4 separate regions of the Homo sapiens genome follow, and regions 2, 3 and 4 are each linked to region 1. The links come from fine-mapping of genetic effects on gene expression. A gene starts in region 1. Each other region holds a variant in brackets. All regions are shown on one strand. Distances are between the middles of the regions. Region 1 holds the start of FZD10-AS1 (FZD10 antisense RNA 1). Region 2 has its middle 49 kb from the start of FZD10. Region 3 has its middle 12 kb from the start of LINC02418. Region 4 holds the start of LINC02419 (long intergenic non-protein coding RNA 2419).

Region 1 (7,561 bases):
AGCAAACTAAAGAACATATTTTATTTTTAATAAAATAGTGGAGCATGAAAAATATCATATATTACAAATATACACACGCAGAAACCACTCTTTCCTGGCACTGTGAAGAGAATACACTAGACAAAGTGTCTCTGCCAACCTAGTGCTTCCTGATCTGTTTGTGGAAATCATTTGTTTAACAATAGAAAGAGTCAATAAGCCCTTTGGGTAACTTTTGAATGATCCTTCTCCCTCTTCCCCCCTCCTTTCCACAAATCAGTCCAAACGTCTATAACATTGGCTTGGTTTCCATTAAAAAGCCACAAAATGTAGCACTGAAGGGTTTCTGAGGGCTGGGCCTCTTAGTTCTTTTGTTAGGAGATTTCTTTTGTTGTCTTTATATATAGCAAAATACTTGTTTCTCTTTTTATTTTCAAGGAAAGAGAAAAAAATGTATTGCACATCGTTTGAGTTCACAAATGTGAGGTTTGATGGAGGTTTCTGTCTTGCAGAGAGACTATTGGTGAAGGCCGGAGTCTATTTTAAGCAACTCCAAATCCACTGGGGTGTGAGGCGGGCCCCGGGTCCTGTCTTTCCTCTGCAGGGATGCCGCCCAGCACTGTGGCCTTCCTGGGGGTGGGCCCTGGGGATGGCTCATTTGTTAACCCAGGGGAGGCTCTTGAATTTGCAAAGCAGTTATCTGTCCTCTTATTTGTAAATGGGTAGCAAAGCCAACTCAAATACACAGATGTATATTTAGGGAGGGCTCTAAACAAAAGTTTTCTTCTGAGGGCTGAATCAACTACTTTACCACAAATTAGTTACACAAGAGGCTACTTCACTGGAGGAGCTTCCCTTCGCTGGAAAACCAAAACAAAACAAAACCCTTTAAGTACATTTTTCCTTTCAGTGTATCACAGCATCCTGAATTTCAGGGTAAACACTTTTTTATGTATTTCTCTTTTGCTTTTATAAAAAAAAAAAAAGAAGAAGAAGAAAGAAAAACACAACCAAGAAAAGCACCACATCTTAGCTCCGGGCGCCCCTGTGCCCTTCCCTCCAGCCCTGTTCACACGCAGGTGGGCGACTGGGCAGGGATCTCATATTTCCCGTGGTGAGTTTTCTGGGGATGCTGGGCTTTTTTGTAAATCCCACCGCTGGTGATCACGCTGGCCGGTTTTCTCCGGCTCTTCTTCTTTAACCTACGGCTGCACACCTGCTGCCAGGACTGCAGAGTCTTGGAGGTCCAAATCCACATCCCGCTGGTGATCCCCACCACCAGCAGCATAAAGATCTTCACCATGAAGATCTCCACGGCGGGGATGGAGGCGGCCATCAGGCAGTCCAGCGTTTTAGTCTGGTTGTTCATTTTGCACTTGTGCTGCGCCGCCAGGATCTTCCAGTAATCCATGTTGAGGCGTTCGTAAAAGTAGCAGGCGATCACACAGGTGGCCGGCACGGTGTACAGCACAGAGAAGAGCCCGATACGCACCATGAGCTTCTCCAGCTTGTCCGTGTTCTCGCCGCCCGTCTTCATCACCCTCCGGATGTGGAACAGGGCCACGAAGCCCGAGAGGATGAAGGACGTGCCGATGACCAGGTAGCAGGCCAGGGGAATGAGCACGAAGCCGGTGAGCGCGTTGACGTCCATGCTGCCCACGTAGCAGACCCCGGTGAGCTCGTCCCCCGCCACCCTGCGCATGACCAGGATCAGGATGGTCTTCACCGCCGGGATGGCCCAGGCTGCCAGGTGGAAGTAGCTGCTGTTGGCTTCGATGGCCTCGTGGCCCCACTTCTTGCCGGCGGCCAGGAACCAGGTGAGCGTGAGGACCACCCACCACAGCGAGCTGGCCATGCCGAAGTAGTAGAGGACCAGGAAGACCAGCGTGCAGCCGGTGCTCTCCAGTCCCTCCTGGATGACATAGAGCTGGCCGCTGTCCCGGTCGCAGGCGATGCTCTCGGCGCCGGCGAAGAGGCGGATGAGGTAGCCCACGGAGTAGACGCAGTAGCACATGGAGAGGAAGATGATGGGGCGCTCGGGGTAGCGGAAGCGGGCCGGGTCGATGAGGAAGGTGAGCACGGTGAAGGCGCTGGAGAAGAAGCACAGCACCGCCCAGATGGCCAGCCAGACCACTGCGAAGCGCTTGTCCTCGCGGCTCCAGTACACGTCCACGCCGGGCGTGCAGAGCGGCGCGCACGACGCGCTCTTCTCCACGTGGTGGAACTTGCCCGGGTTGTCGCAGCCGCCGCGCCCGGGGCCCCCGTCCTTCAGCGGGTGCTCCTGCGCGCTGTGGGGCCGCTGCGGCCGGAACAGCGGCGGGAACAGGCCCGAGCCCCGGGTGGGCTCGTCCGAGCCGTTGTTGGGCGCCTCCATGCACAGGTAGTTGGGGTCGTTCTTGTTGGGGAGTTTCCGGCAGTCCAGGGAGTCGGGCCACTTGAAGTTGAACTGCTCCATAATCGGGGAGCACTTGAGCCGGGCCTGCTCGCACATGACCCGGCAGGCGGGGATGGGGGTAGAGACCTGCTCGGTGCACATCGGCGCGTACAGCGAGCACAGGAAGAAGCGGAGGTGGCCGTGGCAGCCGTACTCCACCAGCGGCGCGAACTCGTGCAACTGGATGGCTGCCTCGCGCTGGTTCTCGTGGCCCATCAGGTTGGGCATACGAGTCATGTTGTAGCCGATGTCCTTGCACATCGGGATCTCGATGGGCTGGCATTTGCCGTCGCCCGGGCGCTCCATGTCCATGGAGCTGATGGCGGCGCACGAGCCCATCACCTGCAGGACCAGCCACAGGCGGGGGCCCGGGCGCTGCATGCTGGCGTTGGACGTGTCCTCGCGGGGAGCTCCGCGCCCCTCAGCGCCGCCGCTCCCGGGCACGGGCTGCTGCTGGCCCCGGCTCTCCACCCCTGCTCGGGCCCCCGCCCATGCCCGCCCGGCCTGGCCCGAGCGCTGCGCACAGCGCCCCCGGCTCGGCTCTCCGCGCCCGGCGTCCGCCGAGTTGGGGGCCGCGGCGGAGAGCAGCAAAGTTTGCAAACAATACCGGGAAGCGAGGGAAGCCCCCGGAGCTCCCGGCGCAGCGGCCCGGCGCGAGCTCCAACTCACGGCCGCGGCAAACTTCGGCCTCTTCTTGGAGCGCCCAGGTGGCGCGTCTGGAGCGGGCTGGCGGCGCGGGCACACCGAGGCCGGCCCAGCTCGCGGCGCCCCCACAGCCCGGGCGGCTCCTCCCTCCCTGCGCCGGCCTCGGCCGGGACCAGCCGGCAGCTGTTTCGAGGTTTGCGTCCCGGGATGAGAAGACTCGCAAAAAGGCAAAGGGGGGCAGAAAAGCCGAGCGCTGACAGGCCCCGCCCCCGGGCCGCGCGCCCCGCCCCGCCGCTGCTTTGCATGAGAAAGCGCAGCGGCCCGGGGCAGCCTCCTCCCCGCCGCCCCGCCGCGGGCTCCCGGGCCCCGCGGGGGCCGATCCCCCCCGGCCTGCAGCCCAGCCTGCGGGGGGCGCAGCGCCTAGTCCCGCCCGCGTCGCCCGCCAGCCCCGGGACAGCCCGCCTGGCGCGCGGGGCTCTGCGCGCTGCGACCCTCCCCGGCAGTCCCGCCCGCCTCTCCTCGCCCTCTCTCTGCCTGGCCTCCAACTTTGCCTCTCGCTATCCTCTCCGCCGGCGCCCCCTTTCCCGGCGGTCCCCGGGATGGTCCCCGGCACCCCGAGGACGCCGAGGTTACGGGAAGTTCGGGGACTGGCGGGAGAAGGGGTTTGGGGGTGGTCCGCGGCGAGGGGCGCGGGGTGCATCTTCTCTTCCTTTTATGGTGAGTCCCGGGCGGAGGGCGCTTTCAAAGGGAGGTGGGATTTGCGTTTTATAGCCTGGGCCATAAAGTAGGCCCTTGCTTGTAAACCTGCCCGCATCTTCCTGAGGCTGGGGAGGTGCTACCAGCCCCGGGCTCCGGGCTCCGAGGAGGGATTTTCTTTGAAATTTCAAAGAGACGAGCTAAGGGGAGGGGGAGGGGCTCGAGAATCCGGATTTTAGGGCCGCTCATCCGAGGTCTCCTCTAAGAAGGCGGGAAGGGGGAGGGGCGGGAAGCGTCCCGGGACTTTGAACACCGCCTCCCACCCCGCGGGAAGTGCGGGCTTGGTTTGTACCGCGGTGACCCCCGCCCCCTCCGAAGCCGCAGAGCCGGGGCCTCGCGCCAGCAGGGCTGGAGATGCCTTCTTGGCGGCTGAGTTTATTTATTATAGGAAGTCATTCGCTCGTGGGGTATTTATGTGATTTGGCGAGTGATGTGCCCGGCCAGCGCCCTCCTTGGCTGCAGCCCCGCAGGAGGACCCGGAGTAGGGTGGGATGGAGTGGGTCGTGGGAGGAGCGCGTCAGCGCCTGCCCGGGGACCCCCAGCTCCCGCGAGGACACGGAGGCGCGCACGCCGCTCGGTTTTCCTGGAAAGTGGAGAAGGAGCGTCCTGGGCAGGTCCTCTGAGCTCATCCCCCCTCGGATTGGGGCGGGTCTGTGACGGGGTCACTTAGGACACGACGTCCCCCCGCCATTCCCTTCCCCCGCCCAGGGCGTTCGCGGTGGGCGCCCACCGCCAAGCCCCACTGTTCCCAAGGATGCGCCAGGTGCTTCCCGTAGCGTCCTGGGTTGACCCTTAAAAAAACAGCACCCCTAGGAGGTGGCCGGCCCTCTCCTCCCAGGGTCTCTCCGGGTCACGATCTTCCAAAGTTCGGAAACTCGCAGGATCGCGTGTGCAATCTCCCGCTACCTCCCGGGGGGCCGGGGAGAGGTCAGAGGAGCGAGTCCCGCGTCCACCGGCCTCGCTTGCCCCCTGCCCGTTTGAGGATAGTTCCAGGGAGCAGGGTGGAGTGTGCGGACATCTTTGGAGGCAGTGCTGGGGCTTCCCGCGTTGGCGGCGCTCCACCCGGCGTGGGGGGCGGCTGCACGGGCCCCCGCGGTGGGGACGCTGCGCACGGGGCAAGGTCTCCCTAGGAAGCGCCCGGGAAGGAGATGGGGCCCGCCAGGAACCCCCCTCACTGACCAGCTTTCTGCACGCCGTGCAGGAGGGGGCCACTTCCTCGGAGAGTATTGGCTTTTAATTAAAACAAGCCCTACAATTTTTACATCGGTAAGAAACTTGGGGAAATCTCACCTTTCCACTCATTCATTCATCCGTTCAACAGACATTTGAGCGCCCAGAATCCCAGAATTAATAGGCAGGTTCAGGCACCCACCCCTGGGTCGCTGTCCCTGGGTGTCCTGGGTCTCACTAGGAGGTGCTGGAGGAAGTCGGGGTGAGGGAGAAAGTGAAAAAGAAGGTAGAAACTCCGGGCAGTTAGAACACCACCTTCAACTGTGTTATTTCCCAAGTGAAAAGTTGCATGATTTTATTTTTGAAAGACTGCCATTTTTATTATAGTGTTTTTTTTTTTGTTGTTGTTGTTTTTTGTCTAGTGAGTAATTTTTCAGGACCTTTAAATTAAAATTAATTCAGCGGAAATCACTTGGCTTTTCTAGAATTTTCCTGGCAAAGGTCCTTCCTGGGCCCTATTTTCCTTCTTTTCCTTTTTGTGTCTCTCCCTCAGCAACTATTAGAAATATTTAGTGCAAGAGTGAGAGCCAAACGCCGGGAGCTGGGTGTGAGCTATTTGAGAAAGTGCCTCCTAATTGATCTTTTCTGTGCTGTTTTAATTCAGCCACGTTCAGGCCCATTATTTTAGCTATAACCACTTCAGATTGCCTTTTTCTCTCGTTTTTTATAAAAATGTCTGCAGAAGTGCTTCGCCCTGTCCAGCTGAGATGGAAACCAACAAATAGACTTTATTATAGAGAAATGAGGGTTCTGAGAAATCAGCAACTGGAAGATAAGTCTGTAACTAATAAATGAAAAGGCTCTTTTGATGGCCCCAGCTGAAAAGATATTTTATTTTATTTTTTTTCCTGTGTGTGGGATTTGAGATGTGTGAGTCTAAGGAGCAGCCGGGGTCCCCCGCTGCTCAGCCCTGGCTGGCAACCGACCCCCCTCTGGCAAATGTTATGGAGAATTGGGAGGAATTTTATGGCTGTCTTTCCCTCAGCTCTTTTTTCTTTTGTCTTCTTTGAAGAATGACTTTAGACATTTTATTTACATATTTAACCATGGATGAAAGACGGAAAAGAAAGCTTTGGAGCCGTCGTGGGAATAGTGATATGTTTAAATTAATGGAAATCTTATTAGGCTTCTAAAATTTTGAGCAAAGATTTTTAATGAAACTTTATAATTAAACATGATTTCACATAACGTGCAGAGACAAGGAATATGTTTTTACCCCCAACCACCTAAAAATGTCTGTCTATCGGAAAGCTATCAGTAAACATTATCCGCCTTCAGGTTCTTGCAAACGTTCACCAGGGAAAGTATGAGGTTTTTGAGAGAGAATATTTCAGGAGTCAGGCAGTGTTTTGAACAAGAACTAAATATTTTTTGGAGGTGGAGGGGAATTGAAAGAGAGGCCCAGTTTCATTCCATTTAAACTCACAAAGTCAAAAGTATAAAAGTACTTTGACACGGATATTGCTAAAAATCAAAGTTGTATCTTTTCTTATTATGTAATAGTCAATGGAAATTATAAGCACTGTGCGAGGTTTTCTGAAATGGGATTAGAGAAAACCCAAATAATCTCTTTAAGATAAAAAAGTACTGAGTCTTTCAGCAACAGAAAGAAATTAAACCATAAGCTTAGCATGTTACAAGCTAATTGCAAGAGTAAACTGGTGGCATAGGAAGAAAGCTCATAAACAGAAGTAAAATCGTGCTGGTGAATGTTGAGATAAAAAGTGGTTCAGGCTGTCGCAACGCCTTTCAGTAGCTGCTGCTTGAATCACCTCTCTTGGTACATTCAAGTGTGAGGATCCACGTAAGTGATTCTTGTGTTTCTTCTCTTGTCTTCTCGTGTCGTCAATGTTTGTATTTAGTCCGGGACATTTCCAATTCTACCTTCAAGTATGAGAATGAAAACTGATCTATTTACCAATAATTGCTTCACATGCAGGGAAGTCTGATGTGAATAGACCTTGTTTTCTCTGACCTCATCTAGTATCAAGTTTCTGCAGAAACTTATCAGATATAAAACATGCACAAAAAATTATGTTTTCTGATCAAGTAGGCATGCTCCCCGTGGCGTGCCCCCATCTTTTTCTCCAGGGAAAATACCTTTAGTGATCTGAAGTGATACTTAGCAAAGAAAACACAGTTTGTACCACCAGAAAGGCCATGCAAGTCGCAGCGAATTCAACAGGCGCAAAAGTTTTAATTCTGCCTAAAAACACTGGCTGTGAGATGTGGAGGTTTGGGGGAAGGTGAGAAATGAACCCCGAAGCACCCCCATCCTAAAGTGGATGAGTGGGGTGTCCAGTGTGGCTCCAGCACAATTTAGGCAGCTATTTTAAGGCCACTTCCCTTGAAATGTGGTTTGAAATATTACCAAAGGTTCCACGGGGTGCACTAGTGTGAATTGCAAATCAGAGCATTGATTTAATCCTCTTTCAAGGCCGGGCTTTGGATCGCTGGCGTCGACTGGCTCCCCACTGCTCCTGGCTCAGGAGGGACCATTCAAGGGGGCAGCTTCCC
Region 2 (7,561 bases), 50 kb before region 1:
TGTGGAATGAGATCCGGGAGCCAAGGATGGAACCCCGGGGGACAAAACCTCTTCAGAGCGTTCTTTTAACTGAAGAATATATTAAGTCAGGGAGAAAAATGTCATTCAGATGATTCAACAACTTCCCTGTGGTTTCATGTATCAACTTGTCATCAGTAAAGGAAGAGAATACGAAATGCAACCCCGTAGCCTCTACAGTGCTCCTGAAATTGGAAGGGGAGCCAGCGGGGACCACCTTCCTACATGAGTTGCCTGGTTTTGCTTTTTGGTTCTGTCATATTCCTTTGCTGGGATTGGAGTCCTACATTAAGGAGCTTTATTTAGCCCCCTTATTATCTCCAGCCTCCCCACTCCACGAGAGCAATGAGCTTTCTTCCCGTGCAAACACAACCTCAAGATAGGTCTCCTACGCCCTCTTCCTTCCAGATGCTCTCCTACAAGGACCTCCCACTGATAAATTTGGTAGCAGCCGAGGTTCACCACCAGGCTCAAATCAACAGCAGGGGAGCAGTGCAGGGGAAGAACACGGGTTTTGGAAGTAGACAAGGCTGGAATTAGAATTTTGTTTGCATCACTCGCTAGCTCAGTTTCCGCATTTGTAAAGTGGAAATAAGCACATGTGTGTCATAGTCTCGTAATGAGTCTCATAAATTTGAGTCTCTGATTAGATTAGATCATGCTTAGTCTCACACCAATTCCTTCTGCCCCTATGTGTGCACTTGCTATCTCTACCACCTCACTTCTTTTTTATTTACTAAAAGTGGGATTAGGAGCACGATGCACAGCACTACACAAAGCTCTGTGAACGCACACATTGATCTGAGATATTGGTCGACACACACATGTGAAGCTCCCACATGAAATATCAAAAATAACCCCCTTAACTGTTAATCAGAAAACACAAGCAGGTCTTAATTAGAGGGTGATGATTTGCTTTATGGACTCAAAAGTCTCAGAGAGGGTAGATGGCATTTATGTCTTATTGTAGATTTCTAGACCCTTAGATAAAATCTGCAAGAAGCAAGGTGGAGGCACATCTTTGCATTTTCATAGCTCAAAACAATTGAGCTTAAATACAGTCCATTTTTCCACTTAGCACCTTTATGCAACTCCATGAATTCTGGCAAATTCTCCAGACAAGATGATCATAACAGAGAAGAAACCACATTTGTCCTTTTTTAGCATGTGTGCTGGCAGAACCAGACATGTTGGAGAAACACAGTCCAAGGGGGTGAGCATTGTTAGGGAGAGAGGGGATCAAAGGGCTGAGATGGCCCATGCATGCCTTGGATGACAGAGAAAGCTGTTTTATGATTGGAAGTTAAAAAGCCCCATAAGATTCCAGGTGCCTGGAAACAGGAGATGACAGAATCCTGCGGGAGGGAGGCCATTGCTGCTGGCGTCTGTGCCTCCACAGATGCTTTAAAGAGGTAGGAGATAAGACCAGAGTTGTATCTGGAGCACATAACTTCCCATTTAACTCTACTTCAGGACTGGAGTAGCTGAGTGGGGTCATGTGTCATCCGAATTAAAGGTTATTGAGCTGGAGCCAGTGGAGGGAGTGCCAAAGGAGAATATGACCCATGCTCCCCCCAGCCCTTCTCCAAGCAGGTCTTCAAGGTTTGCAGAGTGAAGAGAAGAGCTGCTTCACCTGGGAGGATGTGGGAGCTGGACAACTCCACTCATCAAGATTAATAGAACCTCCTTATCCCCAATACAGTATCTTACAGAAGATAGCAATCTATTTCCCTCTCACGTGAAAGCAACCTGCAGGTGGGCAGCTCAGGTTAATATGGCATGTGGAGAGTTTCAGGGATCCGTGGACTTTGTGGCTTTCATGTTTGCTATTTCTAGGGTGTGGAGCTTGACTTCCTAGTCCAAGAAGGCTGCAGGACCTCCAGCCCTCTCTTCTGCATTCCATGTATTCCAAGCACGAGGAAGAGGCAAGGAAGAGGAGGTCAGGAGCCAGCAAAGCTGCCTTCTAAGACAGCTTCATGAAAGCAGCCTCATGTTTTCCACTTTTATCTCAATGACCGGAACATAGTCACACAGATACACCAAGCTCCAGTGAGAATGGGGAGTGGACTGTTCTCTTCTAGACAGCCAGGCACTGTCAAGGAACTGTCTCCAAGCTGCTGACCAACAACAGTGAGAGATCTATTGATGAAACTCCTTAGGCAGCTCTAGGAGTCTTTGACAACTCAGAGTCCTCAGTTTCCATATACACACATGGAGTTATACATAGCAAATCTTATATTTGTTGTTGATGTATGTTAATGAAAGAAAAAGACTTAAAATATTGCCACACAATTACTAAATAGTATTTGGGAGGAAGCTTCTCTTTGTGGAGTTATTCCACTGAATGGATGAGGAAACAAGAGAACGGAGCATTAACATTTGGCAAGCCTTCTTAAAATAATGGATCCAGGCATTGAACACAGGTCTGTTAACATAACAAAATGAAAGACAATCAAGCATCGTATGCCTCCTTGTAAGACAACACCTCACGTAGATAGATTTCCTGTTTAAAAAAATCGAGTTTCATGAACCCCACTGCTCCAGCTTCCAATCCACAAAAAAACACAGAAGACAGAGAAAAATATTACACAACGCCCCACAAGGACATGATTAGCAAAATCGAAACTAGGAAACAGGACAAAAGAAACTGGTTTCTTCCACAAATGTTGAAAAAAAAAAATGGCTGGGAACTCCAGAGATGAAAACAAAAGATAGTACAGCCAGTCAGCAGGTGTGGAGCTGTTCAGCGCCTGGTTCAAACCGACAAGTAGAACCTAAAATCAAAGAGACTTGGTTTGACCCCATATGACTTTTAGAAGACAACCGGAAATTTGAATACTGAGTGGATTTTTGTTGATATTAAGGAATTACTATTTTAGGATAATGGCATCATGGTTATATTAAAGAAAGTGTCCTTATCTGTTAGAGAAACATACTGAAATATTTATGAATAAAATATGATTTCTAGGATTTGCTTCAAGATAATAGAGGAGTGGGAAAGTGGATAGAGGTATAGATGAAGTCAGATTGGCTGTGAACTGACAGTCTTAAAGCTAAGTGACTCACTATTCTCTCTCGCTCTCTCTGAAGCTGGGAGTTCATTATACTACTATATTCACTTGTGTAAGTTAAAATATTCCATAATAGGCTGGGTGCAGCGGCTCACGTCTGTAATCTCAGCACTTTGGGAAGCCAACATGGAAGGATTGCTTGAGGTCAGGGGTTTGAGACCAGTCTGGGCAACACAATGAGGCCTTGTCTCTACAAAAAATTTAAAAATTAGCTGGGCCTGGTAGTGCACCTGTAGTCCCACCTACTCTGGAGGGTGAGGTGGGAGGATCACCTGATCCTTGGTGGTGGAGGCTACAGTGAGTCTTAATTGTGCCACTGCATTCTAGTCAGGGTGACTGAGCAAGGCCCTATCTCAAATAAAATAAAATAAATAAAATAAAATATTCCACAATAAATAAAAATATAACAAAGTAGAATGATTTATAATCCTTTGGGCATATACCCAGTAATGGGATTGCTAGGTAAAATGGTATTTCTGGTTCTAGATCCTTGAGGAATCGCCAAACTGTCTTCCACAATGGTTGAACTAATTTACACTCCCACCAGTAGTGTAAAAGTGTTCCTATTTCTCCACAGCCTCACCAGCATCTGTTGTTTCCTGACTTTTTAATAATCTCCATTCTAACCAGCACGAGATGGTATCTCATTGTGGTATGCACACG[T/C]ATGTTTATTGGAGCACTATTTACAATAGCAAAGACTTGGAACCAACCCAAATGCCCATCAATGATAGACTGGAGAAAGAAAATATGGTACATATACACCATGGAATACTATGCAGCCGTAAAAAAGAATGAGTTAATGTCCTTTGCAGGGATATGGATGAAGCTGGAAGCCATCATTCTCAGCAAACTATCACAAGGACAGAAAACCAAACACCGCATGTTCTCACTCATAAGTAAGAGTTGAACAATGAGAACACATGGACACAGAGAGGGAACGTCACACACTGGGGCCTGTCGGCGGGTGGGGGGCAAGGGGAGGGAGAGCATTAGGACAAATACTAAATACAGGCAGGGCTTGAAACCTAGATGACAGGTTGATGGGTGCAGCAAATCATCATGGCACATGTATACCTATGTAACAAACATGCGCATTCTGCACATGTATCCCAGAACTTAAAGTAAAATGAAAAAATAAACTCAAGAATTAAAAAAAAAAAAAAAAAACAAAGTGCGAGACAAAAACTATGAGTTCTTCCAAACGAGAAGCTCTAAGCCAACTTTCTCAGGTATTAGGTAAGGCTCTAGCCAAATCTGTAGCCACCCTAGGTAGCCCCTGATGGACTACCCCGGGCCGCCGCTGTGGACTTGAGAGGTCAAGCTGAAGACTTGTGGTTATTGCCGCTATTCAAGGAGAGAAGAGCCTGGGTCCAGCCAGGTTCATTGGCAAGTGTTTCTTCCACATTCACAGGAAAAACTGGGCAAGATAAGATGTTCCAAATACAAGCCCTGAGAAGTGATCGAGCTATAGAAATAATCTCAGAAAAATGATCTCACTCATACTGGGAGAGTGGCAGGGAAGGAGGCAGGGGCCACATACAAAAGAGACTATAGTTTCTTCTAACAGGCAGTCAACAGATAATGTCTAAAACTAATACTATATCATGATGTAATGCTGAAAACACCTTTTTAAAATGGAAATGGACCAGAGAGAGCTGCAACAATCCAGCATGCTTTCTCCTGGGAAAGCAAACATGGAGTCGTGGGGCCGTATGAGAGAGGAAAAGGGATGCTTCTTAAATTATAAGCACTGGATACTCTTAATTATGTGTGTATTTCACACATATTTAAACTTTAAGATGAAGGTTAAAAAAAAAAAAAACAAGCAATAGCAATAACAACAAAAACCAGAATGTGGCCCAACCTGTAATCAGGGGAAAATTCCTGGACTGAACATCCTCTTATTATTAATAAAGTGGCTAAAAACAAATGAATTAAATATTTAACTGAAGAAGCTAAGAAAAAATAAGAAATTAATGAATAAAATAGGTGAAATGGAAAACAAATTAGTTGTATAGAAAAAAATTAAGGAATAAAAAACAGAATTGATAAAGTAAAGAACCATAGCTTTGAATAGATTAAGATAGATAAATCTCTTGGCAAACTTGAGCGAGAGCAAGAGTGAGAACAAGAGAGAGAGAAAAACTAAATTGTTCATGATAGAAATAAGACAAAATACTTAGTGATATGGCAGAGATTTATAAAACTTAGAGAATGCCATGTATACCCTCATACCAAGAGGTATGAAGGTATGAATGAATCCTTATCTGGATGAAAGGAATAATTACCAGAGTTAAATAAAGAAGTAGAAAATCTGGATAATAATTATTTAAAAATGAGAAGGATGTCAAAAATTTACCATCCGACCCTCTAGGAACAGATAAATCGTCTATGATTTAAACTATCCTGAAGCCTAGAAAAAAACACAGAAAATTTTCTAGTATATTCTACAAGACTGATAAAATTCTGACACCAAAATCTAATTAACAGTATTATATGTATATTTAAAACATACAACTATAAACCCAAACTAATATTTTTAGAAATGTATCTAACAAATGGAGAAAAAACCCTTCCCTCATAAATGAACTTGTTTACCATTAAGGGTTTGTTTTTTCAACTGTTGAACTTCCCAGAACCTTTAATATATTAAGATACAGCTTTAAAATTTTTGTGTGCGTAAGAATCCCTGGTAAAGCTTGTTAAAATGCAGGTTTCCAAACCCAAATCACAGATTTTTATTGAATAAAGCCTGAATATCTGAATTTAACAGATACCTAGGTAATTTGGATTCAGGTGGTAAAAACACTGCACTAACGAGCATTGTAAATCTCCAAGAGGGGCATTCATTACACAGATGCTTCCCAGAGTGGTTTAATAGAATTGCCTTTGTCAGAGCTCCAATTAAACTTCCAGAATTACGGTTCTTGACAAACAGGTTAAGAAATACAGATTGAGTTTAATCACTTTTGCAAATAAGAATAATAAAACTCAAAATTTACTATCAACAAATTGAATCCATCGGTGTATTAAAGAATAATATACCATGACTAAACTATTTTTCTTCCAATAATAAAAGGATGAAATAACATCGGAAAACTTTTAAAAATCAATTAGTATGTGCATTAGTTATCTACCATTGCATAACAAATCACCTCAAACCTTAGCAGCTTAACACAATAGATATGTATTTAATCACAGTTTCCGTTATGTACCCAGAGCAACTTAGGTGGCTGTAGCTTAGAGTGCCTTTCAAGAAGTTGCAGTCAAGAAGTTGATGGGGCTGCAGTCATCTGAAGGCTTAAATGGGGCAGAAGACTGGCTTCCAAGATGGCAGCCTTGGAAGGCACCCATGGCTGTTGGCTGGAGGCCTCAGTTCCTGGCCATGTGGACCTTTTAGGACTCTTTGAGCATCCTCACAACATGGCAGCTGATTCTCCCATAGCAAGTAATTCGAGATATTTTATGGCCTAGCTCTGGAATTCACACTCTGTTATTCCACATCGTCTATTGATTACACAGGTCAGCCCTATACGATGAGGGAGGGGACTTCATGGTGTGTGAATGCCAGGATTTGAGAATTATTGGGCATTTTATTGAAGGCTAACTACTACAATAGGTTGAAGGATAAAAATTATGATTCAATCATTAAATGGGAAAAATTCTGAGGAAACTTGATAATTATTACTGCTTTCCCTTGGCTATTGACAGAAGGAAGTTCTAACGGTAAAAGATATATAACAATAACTAGTAAACATTAGATAAATTGGTGAAACATGAAAGGCAGTGCTATCTGCTGGTACCAGGGTTTTTCAACATTGTTCTGGGCTTGCTAGTTAATTCAATGAGGTAAGGAAGAAAGTAATAGTTAAAAACAGTGAAAAGAAGAAATAAAATTCTTACCCATGTATTTGATCTCTCTCTGAATGAAATTATAAGACTATACTGAAAAGGATAAAAGAAAACTCAATAGCGTGAAGTCGTAAATTAATAAATTTAGGGTATATCCAATCAATATTTTAATGAAGCATTTATTAACATGTCATATTTATTAAAGGTTACTTGAAGAGAAAAATGCAAGAGAATAGCTAAAAATATGTTCAAATAGGAAGTATTATGAGGAAGACATATTTTAGCAGATATCAAAAACACCCAAACAATAAATATATTGAGAGATGCCCACACAGGTCACTCAACAGCACAAGAGAGAGTCTGCAATCAGGACAATAAACTTCTGTCTAGACCTCTTACTTTTGGAAGTGATTCTGTACCTAACCCCAGATTTACAGCTTTCTATGCCTAAGGATGTATGGGCAGAGTAGTTTGTAATAACAAAAATCAAAACAACCTTGGTGTTCACTGAATGAAATTGAAACATGGATCTATTAAAAAGAATGTAGTTGATTTGGCATATTCTGCCCTGGAAAAACAGTCACAGTATATTGTTAACTTTTAAAGCAAGTTGCAGAAAA
Region 3 (7,561 bases), 110 kb after region 1:
TTCTTTTTAGATGTTTCTTCATTCAGAAAATACATGTATCAGTTTCCCAGGCCTGCTGCAACAACTGTTCACAAACTGGATGGGTGAAAACAGCTAAAATTTATTTTTGCACAGTTCAAGAGGCCCGAAGTTAGACATGGAGGTGTTGGCAGCCCTGGTTCCCTCTGGAAAAGCATTCACCTCTCCCCGGCTTCTGGTGTCTGCGGACAGTGCTTGGCATTCTTGGGCCGAGGCAAGCATCCCTCCCGCCTCGGCTCTGTCTTCACAGTGCCTCCCCATTGCACCCCTGGGTCTCACGTCCTCCTTCCTTTTCTTTTATAAAGACACCAATCACTGGATTTAGGGCCCATCCTCAATTCAAGATAATCCTATTTCCAAATCTATAATTGGATTACACCTGCAAAGACCTATTTCTAAATAAGGTCGCTTCCTTGGACATATCTTTTTGGGAGACACTCCTCCACCCCTCCCAATGTGCCGTGTCTCCTGTCTCAGCAGCTGCGAGGCATTTGGCCAGGTGCTAGGGATATCATCATGAGTGAAACAGACGAGGTCTTGGTCCTCATGAAGTCAACAGACCAGTGGACAAGCCCGGCGCGACGGTGAATAACACGCATCACGAGGAATCGTGTGTAAATAGCATCCCGTGGTAGTCATCTGGGCTGCTGGAGATGCCTTCCTTGAAAAAGTTCCCTTGAAGAAGGTCCTTAATATGGACTTTGTTGCCTTTAAGCCAAGCCTCACTGTATTCATTTATTCTCGCATTGCTATAAAGAATTATCGGAGACTGAGTAACTTATAAAGGAAAAAGGTTTACTGGACTCACCGTTCTGCAGGCTGTACAGGAAGCACGGCTGGGGAGGCCTCAGGAAACTTACAATCATGGCAGAAGGCGAAGGGGAGGCAGGCACATCTGACATGATGGCAGGAGAGAGACAGAGCGAGAGAGAGCGCTCAAAGGGGAGGTGCTATGCACTTTTAAACAACTGGTACTCACCATCATGTGAACACCAAGGGGAAAATCCGCCCCCCATGATCCAATTATCTCCTACCAGGTCCCTCCCCAACACTGGGGATTATCAATCAACATGAGATTTGGGTGAGGACACAGACCCAAACCACATCACTCACCTTTGATGGGGAATCACAGAACAGTGGGCTGGATGGCTTTGGACCAGCCTGACAAGCTCCCCCGAGGGCCCAGGCATCTTACTGCCATGCAGGAGTCTTGGATCTGCTATTTTCTGGCTGCGTGACCTCCAGCAACTTACTTAATCCTTCTAAACCTCAGTTGAACTGTCCATAAAATGGGAGGATAATACAACCTGCCTGGCAGTGTGGATGCCCCCTAGGGCTTCCTTAGCCCAGTGCCTGGCCCCTAGTAAGTGCTCAAGAAACAGAAGTGGTTTTATGGTCAGAAAGACAAGTGTCCTTGTCAGAGCCTGGGATCTTCTCCAGGCTTCTTAGTTATATGTCTGAGGATGACAGTGCTCTTTTCTTCTCTTTCTCCTTTTCCTTTGTAACCTTTAAATTGTATGCCAGATGCGGTGGCTCACACCTGTAATCCCAGCACTTTGGGAGGCCTAGCCGGGAGGGATCACCTGAGGTCAGGAGATTGAGACCATCCTGGCTAACATGGTGAAATCCTGTCTCTACTAAAAATACAAAAAATTAGCCGGGCGTGGTAGCAGGCGCCTGTAGTCCCAGCTACTCGGGAGGCTGAGGCAGGAGAATTGCTTGAACTTGGGAGGCAGAGGTTGCAGTGAGCCGAGATCGTGCCACTGCACTCCAGCCTGGGCAACAGAGTGAGACTCTGTCTCAAAAAAAAAAAAAAAAAAAAAAAAAGTATGCCTTGCAGGACTGTAGGGGAGCATTTGGCCCCTTCTTTTCTGGCGGGTCCCACAACCTCTTGAGTCTGCGCCTCCTTACCCACCCTCACTGCTCTCACTGCTGCACCCTCCATGCCGGGAACAGTGAACAGATTCCAGTCCCCCTGCACTGTCGAGGACTCAAGCAGCCCCTGAGCAGCTGGGCAGGTGGCAGGGCTACTGAGCCAGTCCAGCCGGCTCCACAGCCTGGCTACCCTTGAGCAGCTCTCAGACCTTAGGAAGTGACTTGACCACTCAGTGCCTCAGTTTCCCCATCTGCAAAAGGAGGCTGATCATAATGGTGCTCACTGCTGGGACTGGTGAGAGAATGAGAGGGGCCGATGCATGGAGACTCCCATGGGTACGTCCTGGCAGGTAGGGGCGCTCAGGATCGGCTACCTTTGCTTTCCCAGCTCAGGATCTGCTCTGAAGTGAGTGGTTGGTTGTCTGTGTGTGGTTGTGTGTGTGGTTGTGGTTGTGGGTGGTGGTGGTGTGTGTGGGGTTGTGTGTGGTTGTGGTGATGTGTATGTGGCTGTGTGTGGTTGTGGGTGGTGGTGGTGTGTGTGGGGTTGTGTGTGGTTGTGGTGATGTGTATGTGGCTGTGTGTGGTTGTGGTTGTCTGCATGTGTGTGGTTGTGTGTGTTTGTGGCTGTTGTGTGTGTGACTGTGTGTATGGTTGTGTGTGTGGTTCTGGTGGTGTGTTGTGTTTTGTTGTGTGTGTGGTTGGGTGTGTGGCTGTGGCAGTTTGTGTGTGGTTTTTTTTGGTTGTGGTGGTGTGTGTGTGGTTGTGTGTGTGGATGTGGTGGTGTGTATGTTTGGTTGTGTGTGTGGATGTGTGTGGTTGTATCTGTGTTTTTTTGTGATTGTGGTGGTGTGTGTGGTGTGTGTTTTGGTTGTGTGTGTGGTTGTGGTGGTGTGTGTGCAGTGTTTTGTTTGGTTGTGGTGTGTGTGTGTGGTTGTGGTTGGGTGTGTGTGTTTGTGTGTGTTTGTGGTGGTGTGTGTTTGTGGTGGTGTGTGGTGTGCGGCTTTGTGGGGTTTGTGTGTGTGGTTGTGGTATGGTGGTGTGTGGTTGTGTGTGTAGTTGTGTTTGTGGTTGTGTGTGGTTGTGTATGTTCTTGTGTGTGGTTGTATGTGTATGTGGTTGTGTGTGGTTGTGGTTGTGTGTGTGGTTGTGGTTTTGTGTGTGGTGTGTTTATATGTGTGCGGTTGTGTGTGTGGTCATTTGTGTATGCGTGTGGTTGTGCGTGTGGTTGTGTGTGTTTGTGGTTGCGGTGGTGTATGTGTGGTGTGTGTGTGGTGGTGGTGGTGGTGTGGGTGTGTGTGTGTCTCCTGCATGTGACATTTCCCCACAGGCCTCACGAGTTGGAGTCCTGGGTGTCCACACGTGTGTATGCCTGTACGGAGTCCACACACAGACTGCAGTGTGATTTATGCAGAAGTTGTAAATTAGCAGTTCTTAGGCCAAACCTGGTCCATAGATGTTTTCTGTTTCCCCAGAATTTGAGTCTTTACATTTTTTTTTAAATCTAGATTTCCAACACCAATGAAAAGTCATATGTCCCAGCATACGTTCACCAAATGGCGACATTCAGCGGAACGGAGCAGCGGCTTCCCCTTTTCAGATGAGGCCTGCAGTCCCAATTTGCCCCAGTCTCCACTACTCCCTATTGTACACACCTGGTCTCACTGAATCATGTACCTGTTTCAACCCAGCTGACACGCATACTGGTTTCCAGCCTTTTCAAGGTTTGGGCCACTTTGCACTACGTGAATGTGGGTTCCCAGGAATCCTCACAATGCCCAGTGCTGAGCAGGTACCACCAGGGTCCTCATGAAGTGGAAAACAGCACTGGAGTGGGTAGCTCCCCACCTCTCCAGGTAGCACTTGACACCGTGGCCTCTGAACTGTTCAGCAGTTCTAAATTTGAGCTAAATTTTTCTTATGATCAAGCTGAAGAGGGTGAATTCCAGGCTGGCCATTGACAAATTAGTTAGTAAACGCTTTGCTCCGGCAAGAGGCAGCTGTCTGCCTTGAAGCACCAGTGTGATGGCCAGGGATGAAGGCCGCCTCTGTCTCGGGGACTGTCAGCCCGGAAGCCGGGGACTGGGC[T/C]CCCTGCCGGAGCTCTGGGGTGCAGTTGTAGCCCACTCACAGCTCCCGACCCCTCTTCTGTGGCAGGAGAAAGGGCAGCAGGCCAAGAAAGCATTCTTCTCTACCTCCTTAATGAAAACCCTGGGCCGGCTGTCTTTCACCCAGGGGCCAGGACCAGCCTGCCTGTGTTTGAATTAGAGGCTGCCACGCCCTTTCGACAGCAGGAGGCCAGGCGGCTGTGCTTCCTCCCTGTTCTGTGTGGCTCACAAAGCCACCTCCAACTCTCCTCCTGAGCCTGGGGAATGACAGACTGTGGCAGGTGGCTGATAAATGGAGAAATGCAGAGGAAAGTGGGGCGCTAGATCCTCAGCAGGTGCAGCCCCGGGAGCCTGCCGCGTGCACACGCTCCTGCCTCAAGCTTGCCCTTCTCTGAGCATCTCAGTTTGTGAAACAGGATCCTGCAGTCCACACGTGGGCTGCCTGTCTCCTGCCACCGCTGGCATTCTTGGGGTGCAGATAAGAACATTTTCCTATCCTCATGTCTTTAAGCATCTACAGGGATCCCTCCTGTGCCCAGGGCTCGCCCTAGCCACAGGATTGCCAGAGAAAATATAAAAATACAGTTAAATTTGAAATCCAGATAAACAATGAAACAATTTTTAGTATAAGTATGCCTCAAATATTTTATAGGACATACTTATACTAAAATATCATTTATTGCTTATCTGAAATTCATATTAACATGAAGTCCTGAATTATTATTATTATTATTATTATTATTATTATTATTATTTTGAGACAGAGTCTCACTCTATCCCCCAGGCTGGAGTGCAATGGTGTGATCTTGGCTCACTGCAACCTCCACCTCCCAGGTCCAAGAGATTCTCCCACCTCAGCCTCCTGAGTAGCTGGGATTACAGGCACCCACCACCACGCTCGTCTAATTTTTGTATTTTTAGTAGAGATGGGGTTTCACCACGTTGGCCAGGCTGGTTTCGAACTCCTGATCCCAGGTGATCCACCCACCTCTGCCTCCCAAAGTGCTGGGATTACAGGCATGAGCCACCATGCCCGGCCCTGAATTTTTATTTGCTATGGCAAGCCCGCCTTGTCCCATGAATGGGGGAAGGGTGTTGGAGCCCATTGCCTGGGTTTGAATCCCAGCTTGGCCACCGACAGGCTGTGTGACCCTGGGCAAGTTACTCAACCTCTCTGTGACCCAATTTCTACATCTGTCTATTGAGATAATAGTGGTGCCCACCTAACAGGAGTGTTGACAGGGAGCAGTGACTGTGGTGGCGCGTGGGAAAGTCCCCACACGGACCAGCCCTGGCTCAGCCTTGGTCGTTATTACCCAGTGTTGTTCAACAATGTCCACGCACAGAGGGTCCTCGCGACCCTGCTAATGCTAGTCCTCAACCTCAGCACTTGGCTTTCTCCACTCCAGCTGCCCTGAGCTTCCTTCAAGCACCAGAAAGGGCCACCTTCCCCTCCGCACCTGTACCTGTCCCATGCCGCCCCCTCTGTCTGGATGGTTATTTCTCTCCGTCATCTGATCAATTCTCTCTTATCTCACATTTAAGATCCAAGGTCATGTTCCCCACTCAGTCAGCAAATATTCATTGAGCACCTATTACAGGCAGGCTAGGGGGCAGCCAACGACGGCTCTGGGACTGAACCCAGATCTAGTCTGCCTGCGAATAACTATTTTTACATTTTCAAATAATTAGAAAAAATCAAAAGAAGACTACTTCGTGACACATGAAACTCAGAGGAAAGTCAACTTTCAGTGTCTACAAATAAGGCTTTATGGGAACACGGCTGCGCTCCCTCACCGAGATATCATCTGTGGCTGCTGTGTGCCCTGGCGGCAGGGTGGAATGCTTGCCACAGAGACCGCAGGGTCTGCAAAGGTTGAAGTATCTGTTACCTAACCAGGGACAGAGAATGCAGAGAATGCATATGCCGACCCTGATCTAGACGCCGGGCATAGGGTGATTAAAGCAAACAGAGAAAAGCAACCCCAAAACCCACACAAAACTCTTTGGTCTCAGAGAAGCAATATTTGGGTGGGAAAAGAGACAGGGGTGTGTGCGAGAGAGAAACAGAGAGAGAGAGAGAGAGAGGCGCGAGTCAGATGATTCAGAAGCTTGGGGCTGTGCTATCAGGAGGATGGGTGTTAACTGTTCTGGTGGGGACAAGTGTGGAAGGAGATGGTGTGTGGAGGAAGACTAAGAGTTTGTTTGGGGACTTGAAGATTTTGAGAGGCCTCTCGGGCATGCCCATGGCGATACTGATGGGGCAGGTGTGCAGGTGCATCTGAAGAAATAACTTTAGAGTCATCAGTTTATAGATGGTCTTGACCCGGGGCATGAGTCTAAAGAGAGAAAATCCTTTCCTGACCTCAAGCCTAAGTCACGTTCCCCTGGAAGATAACAGATGTTCGCTATGCTTCTCTGATGAACAGACTCTGGTTTTTAATTGTTTCAGACCATGGGTTCTGTAGCTTGACTGCCTGGATTCAAATCTCAGCTTGATGACTGAAAAGCGGTGTGGCTTTGAGCAAGTGGCTCACCCTCTCTGTGCCTCTGTCTTCATCTGCAAACTGGGAAGAATAATGGTACTGCCTGATGGGCTTGCTTCCACGATTTAGTAAGCACATCTGTGTAAAGTGCTTTGAACAGTATCTGAAGCATAATCAGTAGCATATAAAGATGCTATCTACCATGATTATTCCGTAATGAGACTCTGAGCTCCCTGAGGACAGGATCTGGTCTCGCCTTCTCATCACTGCATCTCCCACTGCCCAGCACAGTCTCTGCACACACATGGCCGTGGGATCATTGCATCAATGGCTTTGGAAGGACAGAGGGGCAGTTGTCCCCTCCTCTAGGGAGTGACCTGAGTGTGAAGGGGCTGTGGAGGGGAGGGGCGGCCAGGGCTGTAGGAGGAAGGCTACCCAGAGTCCACCGAGGGAACAACGTGCTCAGGGGACAGAGAGGAGAGGTGGGCAGGGCACAGCAGCCCTTGGGCCAGGAGGGCAGGTTGCGGCTGAGCCACGGAAGATCCTCAACATCGAAGTATGGAGACTGATCTTTATTTTTTGAGAAGCAGGGAGTTACAAATTTGTCTTGGCAGGGACAGAGCATCTTGGAGGTTGAGAGGGTGAGGCCAATTCAATTTGGGGAACTCCTAGTATATTAATAAAACAAACAACTGCCAAGACAGGGTTCTGAAAATCTGGGGCTTATTTAAATGTTAACCCTGCCTGGGTGTGGCTCTATTATAAACCTCAAAGAGAGGCAGGCAGGCAGATAGAGTGAGTGACCCGTTAGTGGTTGTGAGATCATTTTAGACTTCAAACCAGAGTTTCTTATCTGAACCATAACATGTAGAAAATGATCTAAGCAAATACTTTCTCAATTCTCACAAAAATGGATTATAACTAGTACCCCTCTAGGTGCCTAGGATAAAGGTTGATGATTGATATACAATGAATGGCTGAGAACGTTCAAGCTTAATTCTCTCTGGATCCTGGTTGAGAAAAAAAGTCTAGAAAAGCAAAGCTAAGGTGGAAGGATGAGTAGGGAATAAGGTAAGTTAG
Region 4 (7,561 bases), 88 kb after region 1:
TCCCACAATCCCCACATGTCATGGGAGGATCTGGTGGGAGGTAATTGAATCATGGGGGCAGTTGCCCTCATGCTGTTCTCATGATAGTGAGTGAGTTCTTAAGAGAGTTGATGGTTTTATAAGGAGCTTTTCCCCCCTTTGCTCAGCACTTCTCTCTCCTGCCGCCTTGTAAAGAAGGACATGTTTGCTTCCTCTTTTGCCGTGATTGTAAGTTTCCTGAGGTCTTTCCAGCCATACAGAACTGTGAGTCAATTAAACCACTTTTCTTTATAAATTATCCAGTCTTGGATATTTCTTCATAGCAGCGTGAGAATGGACTAGTGCATTGCACCTGGCATAGACTTGTGTTTGAAACTGGCATCTACCATGACCACCACCATCCTTATCACTATCACTTTCATTTTGTGTATTTTTATTTTGCTTTATATAGATCTAGCTCCACATTAAATAAAGCCCAATGGTGGACGGGGGAGTGTTCCTAAAGAGTGGGTGTTTCCTGGACCCATTTACTCAAGGAGAAGGACAGATGGATAAGCGTTTACAAAACAAACAGCCTACAGGAAGTCTGGAAACTGTTTCAAAAACAGTCTATAACAGCAACCAAAAAAAAAAAATGTGTAGATGGTGATGTAATCTCTCTGGTAAAAGAGGAAAAGCAAACGGATATTGTCTGCGTGTAGAGCCGTGGGGCCACTAGGGCAGGATTTCCATTCTTAGAGGGCTCCTGGGACTGCCTTTGTCTGGCACTGGCCAGGGCTCTCACACCTCATCAGGGTTTGCAAAGACAACTTCTCACTTCCTTGAGACGTGCTTTTCATGGGACACACACTATAATGTGTATTAAGTTACACGTGCAAAAACAAGCACTTATGCATGCTTTAGGGGAAAAAAGACTAGAAGGAAATACACCAAACTGTGAGTGGTGATTATTTCTAGGATGAATACATATTACTTTTATAATCGGGAACAAAACACAATAAAGTACTTTTAAAGCAGATCTACTTTACCAGAGATGGAAAGTATTACAAAAGAAAATGCAGGACATTCACAGAAAGGTCCTAGGGAACCTTCCAATAGGTTCTCGTTCTTCACTTTGCTGACTGATGATCTTAGGAACTGTTTTAAAATTATGAAAATGTGACTTCATCCTGCATTTACTCCACAGCATCTGGAGAAGGAATATTGTAGTCTCATTTTGTTAAATTTTGTTAGTAAATAGGATGACAGTGTATCCTTTAAATTTTTTTTTAAAGCTTGGGTGTCCTTCCCTGAGATACCTGCATGTGAGCCCTGGCTCTGCCACCTCCTGCTCTGTGACCATGAGCAAGTCACTTAACCTCTCTAGGACTCAGTGTCCTCATCTGGGAAATGGGTGCAATGGCAGGGCCGAGCTCATAGGATCATGGGGAGGAATGGATGAGCTACTGCACACTATAACTCTTCTTTCCTGTGACATCCCTTAAACCGTCTCAGTTCTGTCTTCCAGAAGTTGCTCCTACTACCCTGTGGCCCTGGATGATCCCAGCAGAGTCTGCACCCCCTGTCTTTTGTCTTTTGGATCGATCAGGAACTCCTGTCATCTTTTCCTGTAAACAGATCCCCGTTGAACCGAAGTCTCCCTCCACCTCTGTCTCCCCACCTCAGACTCATCCTCCTCTCTAGACCATACCCCCTTGCTGGTCTCCCTGCTCTCATTCTTGCCCTGAAAGCCAGTTCTCTGCTGGGAGCAATTCCTCTAAAACTTAGAACAGGTCCTGCTCCCTCTGCTCCTCCACCATTCCCAACCACGTTTACAACACAATTGAAGTCCCAGCGGGGGCCTGTGAGGTCCTCATCTGCCCCTGGGAGGCACCTAGCTGCTCCAGCCCTAACCCCCCACCCACCAGGCTTTTGCTTGTAGGCCTCCTCTGTGGCAAGGCTTTCCCTGGCCATCCCACCTGAAACACATTCTGTCACTTTCTGTCCCTTTACTCAACGCCCTTCCTTCACAGGATCCACTGCGACTATAGCTCCACGTGGGTGTTTCTGTCCCAGATCTCCTGGTTACTGTCTCTTATTACTTGTTCTTATTTCATTGCTCATAGGAGTTGCATGGTGCGGTTTTGTGGGTGAATGAAAGACATACATTGACTTGTAAGCAACTGTTCCAGAGCAACAGACTCTGGACGTCCCAGCCCATCTGCAACTATTCGACTTGGCCCACAAGCTTTCTGAGGCCAGGCTGCACACGTCATCTGACCCTCCCTTCGGAGGAGCAAGCAAGGATGCAGGAGAATTTGTGGCCCCTAGGAATATCTCTGACGGTGTCTTCATTCACATGCACACTAAAGGGAGCACACCAGCTCCTCCAGACTAGCAGGCCCTGGTGACCTAGTTTCTGTCTTGAGGCTCCCAGACTTCAGGAATATTTATGCTGCTGTGATTGCATTGCTTCCCCCAGTCTTGAGTGCCCTCTGAGCATGTGAGTCCACTGGGAGGTTTGTGTTCACATTACTAAGTGTTCATAGCAATGTGAGGATGACAAGGAAATGACTAGAAACTGCTAAAAGCACAGGGAGGAGGGAAAACACTATGGCCCCTGATCTCCATGGTGTCTCATGTCAAGTGGAGATGTGCACATCGTGTGACCTCGCTGAGTTTCCGCAGGTGCCTCCCGCCTCGGGGGTGGAGGGGGAGCCCTTCACCAGCTCACTAGCCCCACAGGCCAATGTGGAGCCCCATTTTCTAAAGAGATCTCTGGTGGCTTTAAAATATAATGCATTATTTGATGTTCCACCCTTCAAGAGGTGAAAACTAATTCCTCCCCCTTGAGTGTGGGCCAGACTCAGTGACTCACTCCTAAGAAATAAAGCATGGCAGAAGCAATGGTGTGTGACTTCTGTGACTAGGTCATGGAAGTCAGGGTAGTCTCCTTCTTGCTCTCTCTGGGGATCACTCCCTCTGGGAGAAGTCAGGGGCCATGTCACGAGGACATGCAAGCGTTCAGAGCCCAGTGAGCACACCATCTTGGAAGCAGATCCCCCTTCTCCTCCTTCAGTGGCGGTAGCCCATCCTTGGCCAACCTCAGAGAGACCCTAAACCAGAACCCCTGAGCTACGCTGCTCCCAAACTCCTGACCCACAGAAATAAGCAGTGAATGTTTGTTGTTTAAGATGCTCAGTTTGGGAGGTAATTTGTGACCCAGCAGTAGACAACCCGTACCAGATCTCTGCTTCCTGGGACCCCCGTGTTCATGACTGCTTGACAGTTTCCTTTGCTGCACTCACCACCTCTCTGCCCTTTTGGGATTCCGTTGCCATAAAATGGAGACAATAACATCTATAGGGTCGTGGTGAGAAACAGCTTTAGAATAAAATATTTAAAGCCATCAGTGCAACGGTCAGCACATAGAAAGTAGCCGAAATTGGAGTTGTTTTCATTCCTGTGTAGATCCCCATGCCTGTCGGACAACATCATTCGTGCCGGTTATGACAGGCCTGACGGGCATGCACCCCACAGCCGCCTTCTTAACTGGCAAAAGGAGAGCCACTTTGCACCCCTCAGCAGTGCCCATAGGGCTCTCACACTGCCTCCATCCTCTAGTGCCCAGACACAGGCCCCTACAGCCACCTCTGGGAAGGGCATCCTGTTGCTTTCGCCAAACCTTCTGGGCACCAATGCAAAACTCTCATCTTCATTGCTTAAGTTTCTCCTAAAACTCCTTAAGGAAATGAATTCATTCTGGGCTCTGATGCTTTCTCAGGCCTGCCAGGACACACCTACATTCAAATGCAGGCTCTTGCTTACAGCTGATGATGCATGCGTTGATGACAAGTGTGCACACCCGTGCCAATGTGTACTGGCAAGATGGCCAGAGCTCTTACAGGAACATAAATCATTGAGTAAAATATTGATTTGGTACTTTCTTTCAGTTACTTTTTTTTTTTTTTGAGAAAGACCCTACTCTGTCACCCAGGCTGGAGTGCAGTGGCATGATCTAGGCTCACTGCAACCCCCGCCTCCCAGGTTCAAGCAATTCCCCTGCCTGGGCCTCCTGAGTAGCTGGGATTACAGGCACCTGCCACCATACCTAGCTAATTTTTGCATTTTTAGTAGAGATGAGGTTTCCCATGTTGGCCAGGCTGGTCTTGAACTCCTGACCTCAGGTGATCCACCCGAAAATCCAAGTTATCCCTTTCCCTTGCCTGCAACATTTGCTCTCACTTGGGACTGCAACGCTTAACAGATTAAGACTGTCTTCTTTAAGGGTGTGTGTCGAGGGTGTTTGGTTTTCACTCATTTCCCAACACTAAGCTGAGGTTCTATCATTTGGAAGTTTCTGTACTTTCGGCTCATTCACGAGCATGTACCTGGGACAGAGCCGATGTGTGGTGTC[T/C]GTTAAAAGTAGGACGGTGTCTGTTAAAAGTAGGACAGTGTTTGCCACTGTCATGCCTCTCCCCGGGAAAGCTGGCCCCATCTTCACAGTGCGTGCACGCGCGTGACCACATTTGATCCTCAGGGCTACACTCTGAGATCACTGGGCCACGTGTCAGGTTTACACTCTTTTTAGAGATAAGAAAAATACAGATACAGAGGGCTTAAGTGGCTTTCTACAGTCACCAAGCCAGTGGTTGCAAATCTGGGTTTGAACTCAGTTTCTGACTTCAATTTGGGGCCTTTTGTGCCAACTGGGTTTAGACCAATGCCTACGTGATGTTTGCTCTGTGATGCTGTCATTCTGATTGAGAGTGGAACCGCTTAAAATAACACTGAATATGCTAACACGAGGCACTGGGGCACAGTGTAGACAGCTGGGCCCTGGAGCCAAGCCCCTCGGCTTCAAAACCCGGCTCTGTCGTGGACCAGCAGGACCACCTGAGCAAGGTGCTGCACTCACTTTGCCTCGGTTTCCACATCTGTGAAATGCAGGAGCTGATAGCATCTGCCTCACAGGGTTGTTGTGTGGAGTCAGTGAGCTCACCCACGTGCCGTGTATACAGTACCTGCTCAAGGATAAACACTCAGTTCATATTAACTCTTTATTAAGGTCTCATTTTTGAAAGCCTTGAGACCACTGGCTGCATTTTCCAGCTTTTCTCTAGTACCTGGTGTATGTAAGTACCAAGGGTTGTCTGCCTAGACTTGTAGGCAACATGATTGTAAAAAAGAGGGTTGTTTACCATCTGGAAATAGCATCGCTTGGATTGCAATCATATGCCTTGAGGAAGCCACCTTCTTGTAGTAGAAAAGTCAAAAGCCCTATTATTTTCTTTATATTCAAATTTCGCTCTTAAAAATCATTTAGCTTCGTAATAAAAAAGCAATTAAGAGAAAAACAAACAACCATGTTCCTTATTGTTAACAATCCTGTATCACGCTCTTAAAAATGTGTTAAGAGGGCAGATCTTATGGTCAGTGTTCTTTCTATGAAACAAAACAAAAACCAAATTACTAAGGTCTTCTTCTCCATCAGAAACCTTAGATTTCAGCTGTGGTTATAGTCTTGGCTAACTAAATATGGACGATCCTTTGGAAACATCTTTTCTCCCATGCTTGTTTTATGTTGCTACGGTTTGGCTGTGTCCCCACCCAAATCTCATCTTGAATTTTAGCTCTCATTATTCCCATGTGTTGTGGGAGGGACCTGGTGGGAGATAATTGGATAATGGGGGTGGTCTCCCCCAAACTATTCTCGAGGTAGTGGATAAATCTCATGAGATCTGATGGTTTCATAAGGGAAAGCCCCTTTTGCTTGATTCTCATTCTCTCTCTTGCTGCCACCATGTAAGACATGGCTTTCGCCTTCCGCCATGATTGTGAGGCCTCCCCAGCCACATGGAACTGTGAGTTGATTAAACCTTTTTCTTTATAAATTACCCAGTCTCGGGTATGTCTTTCCAGGCAGCATGAAAACAGATTAATACAACTTGTATTTGTAAGGCCCATTTTCCACAACTGCAGTTTAGTGGTCCCAGAACATAATCTTGTGATTGGGAACTGGGGTTCATTTCACTTGTTGGGCTTATCTGCCTGCAGGGCAGGAATAAGGGAGAAGCTACTAAGTGGACTTACTGCTCAGCTGCAGCCCTCCGCAAACAATCTCCCTCCTATTTTCTCCCGTGTACTTCCTGCGGGGGGTATTCAATGGTTCAAGAGAAGAAACTGCAGTCCTCATTTATCAGCGTCCTATTTCCTGTGACTTAGCCCAAATGTCTTTATGGCCCAAGTGAAAACATAATTCTCAAGTATAAAGAGAAAAATGTAAGGGAGAAAAGCTGACGGTTTACTGTGGATGGCTACCTGCATGACAGGTGGAATAGCTGTAGCTGCACCCAGAAGACAACTGACTTTCACCCTCAACAGCCCCTGCTGCCTTTCAGAACCCTCTCTGTGTGTGATGTAATAATGGGGCCCTGCCAGGTGTGGTGGCTCATGCCTGTAATCCCAGCACTTTGGGATGCCAAGGTGGGTGGATTATTTGAGATCAGGAGTTCAAGACCAGCCTGGCCAACATGGTGAAACCCCATCGCTATTAAAAAATACAAAAATTAACCAGGTGTGGTGTCTCACACCTGTAATCCCAGCACTTTGGGAGGCCGAGGCAGGCAGATCATGAGGTCAGGAGATCGAGACCATCCTGGTTAACATGGCGCCTGTAATCCCAGCTACTCGGGAGGCTGAGGCAGGAGAATCGCTTGAACACGGGAGGCAGAGGTTGCAGGGAACCGAGATTACGCCACTGCACTCCAGCCTGGGCGACAGAGCGAGCCTCCGTCTCAAAAAAATAAACAAATAATGGAGTCCACATGACTTTCAGAAGTGACAGGGCAGTGACCAGCAAGTGAGGCTCAGGGAAATCCAACTTTTATTTAGTTAGCCTGATATTTTTCCAGTTCATCAAATATGCATTCCCATGGAACTTGTGGGAGTTTTCATTCTCATGCCCAGTTGGCTGGAGGAACGGCCAGGGTAGGTGGCAGGAGGTGAGGCATGTTTGTGGCAGGGCCGGGCTTGAGCAAAGCTGAGGTCTGCCCTGAGCTCACTGCGAAGACTGATCTGCGTGGGTCTGCAGGTGAGTTAGGGGCCTGTGACCCGGCTGCCCAGCAGGCTCATCCTGATTCTACTGAAACCCGAGTCTGGGGCGCAGCCAGTCCGCGGGAGCACGAGGCAGGGCGTCTGGATGGTGAGCTGCATTTTTTGCTTCCTGCCTTCCTGACCATGGCAATCACGTGGAGCATGAGGGAGCCCGGGAGGTCGGACTGCAGTCCAGATTAGCTCGCGGTGAAGCTGCTGACGGGCAGCAATCAGACGCTGTTGCCAGGCTCTCAGCCCTCAGTCCTCCGGGCTAAGGGAATCCAGGTCACGTTCTGACTCGGGGAGCCTGTGCTTGCGGGAGGTGAGGCCTTAACCCAGCCTCGGCTGGGGAAGAATTGAGTTAGTTAAGTCAATTATGGTTATTCACTTCCCTTTGCCGGTGATTGGCTTTGGAATGGGCACGTGACATCATTCTGACCAATGAGAGGACGTCTGCTGTGAGGCAGGCTCTCCTGAGAAAGAACTCTGCTGCACTTAAAGGGGCCAG

What was found. PIP is the estimated chance that this variant, and not a neighbour inherited with it, causes the effect.
Region 2: its variant is the best candidate, but not a certain one, in a credible set for the expression of FZD10-AS1 in minor salivary gland (GTEx, PIP 0.82).
Region 3: its variant is the best candidate, but not a certain one, in a credible set for the expression of FZD10-AS1 in anterior cingulate cortex (GTEx, PIP 0.59).
Region 4: its variant is the best candidate, but not a certain one, in a credible set for the expression of FZD10-AS1 in putamen (GTEx, PIP 0.79).

What each region holds. Positions count from the first base shown.
Region 1 is chr12:130,158,176-130,165,736 of GRCh38, reverse strand. It overlaps FZD10-AS1 (FZD10 antisense RNA 1), which reads left to right and starts at 4,059. Exons shown (of 4, transcript NR_033834.1): 1 at 4,059-5,080. FZD10 (frizzled class receptor 10) reads right to left here and starts at 3,273. Exons shown (of 1, transcript NM_007197.4): 1 at 1-3,273. The coding sequence starts at 2,794. The coding sequence ends at 1,049. RefSeq lists enhancers at 447-992, 1,078-2,073, 3,660-4,226, 4,227-4,793.
Region 2 is chr12:130,207,769-130,215,329 of GRCh38, reverse strand. No RefSeq gene overlaps it. Among named protein-coding and RNA genes, the nearest start is that of FZD10, 49 kb to the right of the region's middle. The variant T/C (reference allele first, on the strand shown) is at 3,753.
Region 3 is chr12:130,050,399-130,057,959 of GRCh38, reverse strand. No RefSeq gene overlaps it. Among named protein-coding and RNA genes, the nearest start is that of LINC02418, 12 kb to the right of the region's middle. The variant T/C (reference allele first, on the strand shown) is at 3,979.
Region 4 is chr12:130,070,129-130,077,689 of GRCh38, reverse strand. It overlaps LINC02419 (long intergenic non-protein coding RNA 2419), which reads right to left and starts at 6,355. Exons shown (of 2, transcript NR_146538.1): 1 at 6,052-6,355; 2 at 5,005-5,403. LOC105370077 (a long non-coding RNA gene) reads left to right here and starts at 6,409. Exons shown (of 4, transcript XR_945550.1): 1 at 6,409-6,444. RefSeq lists an enhancer at 1,565-2,092. The variant T/C (reference allele first, on the strand shown) is at 4,376.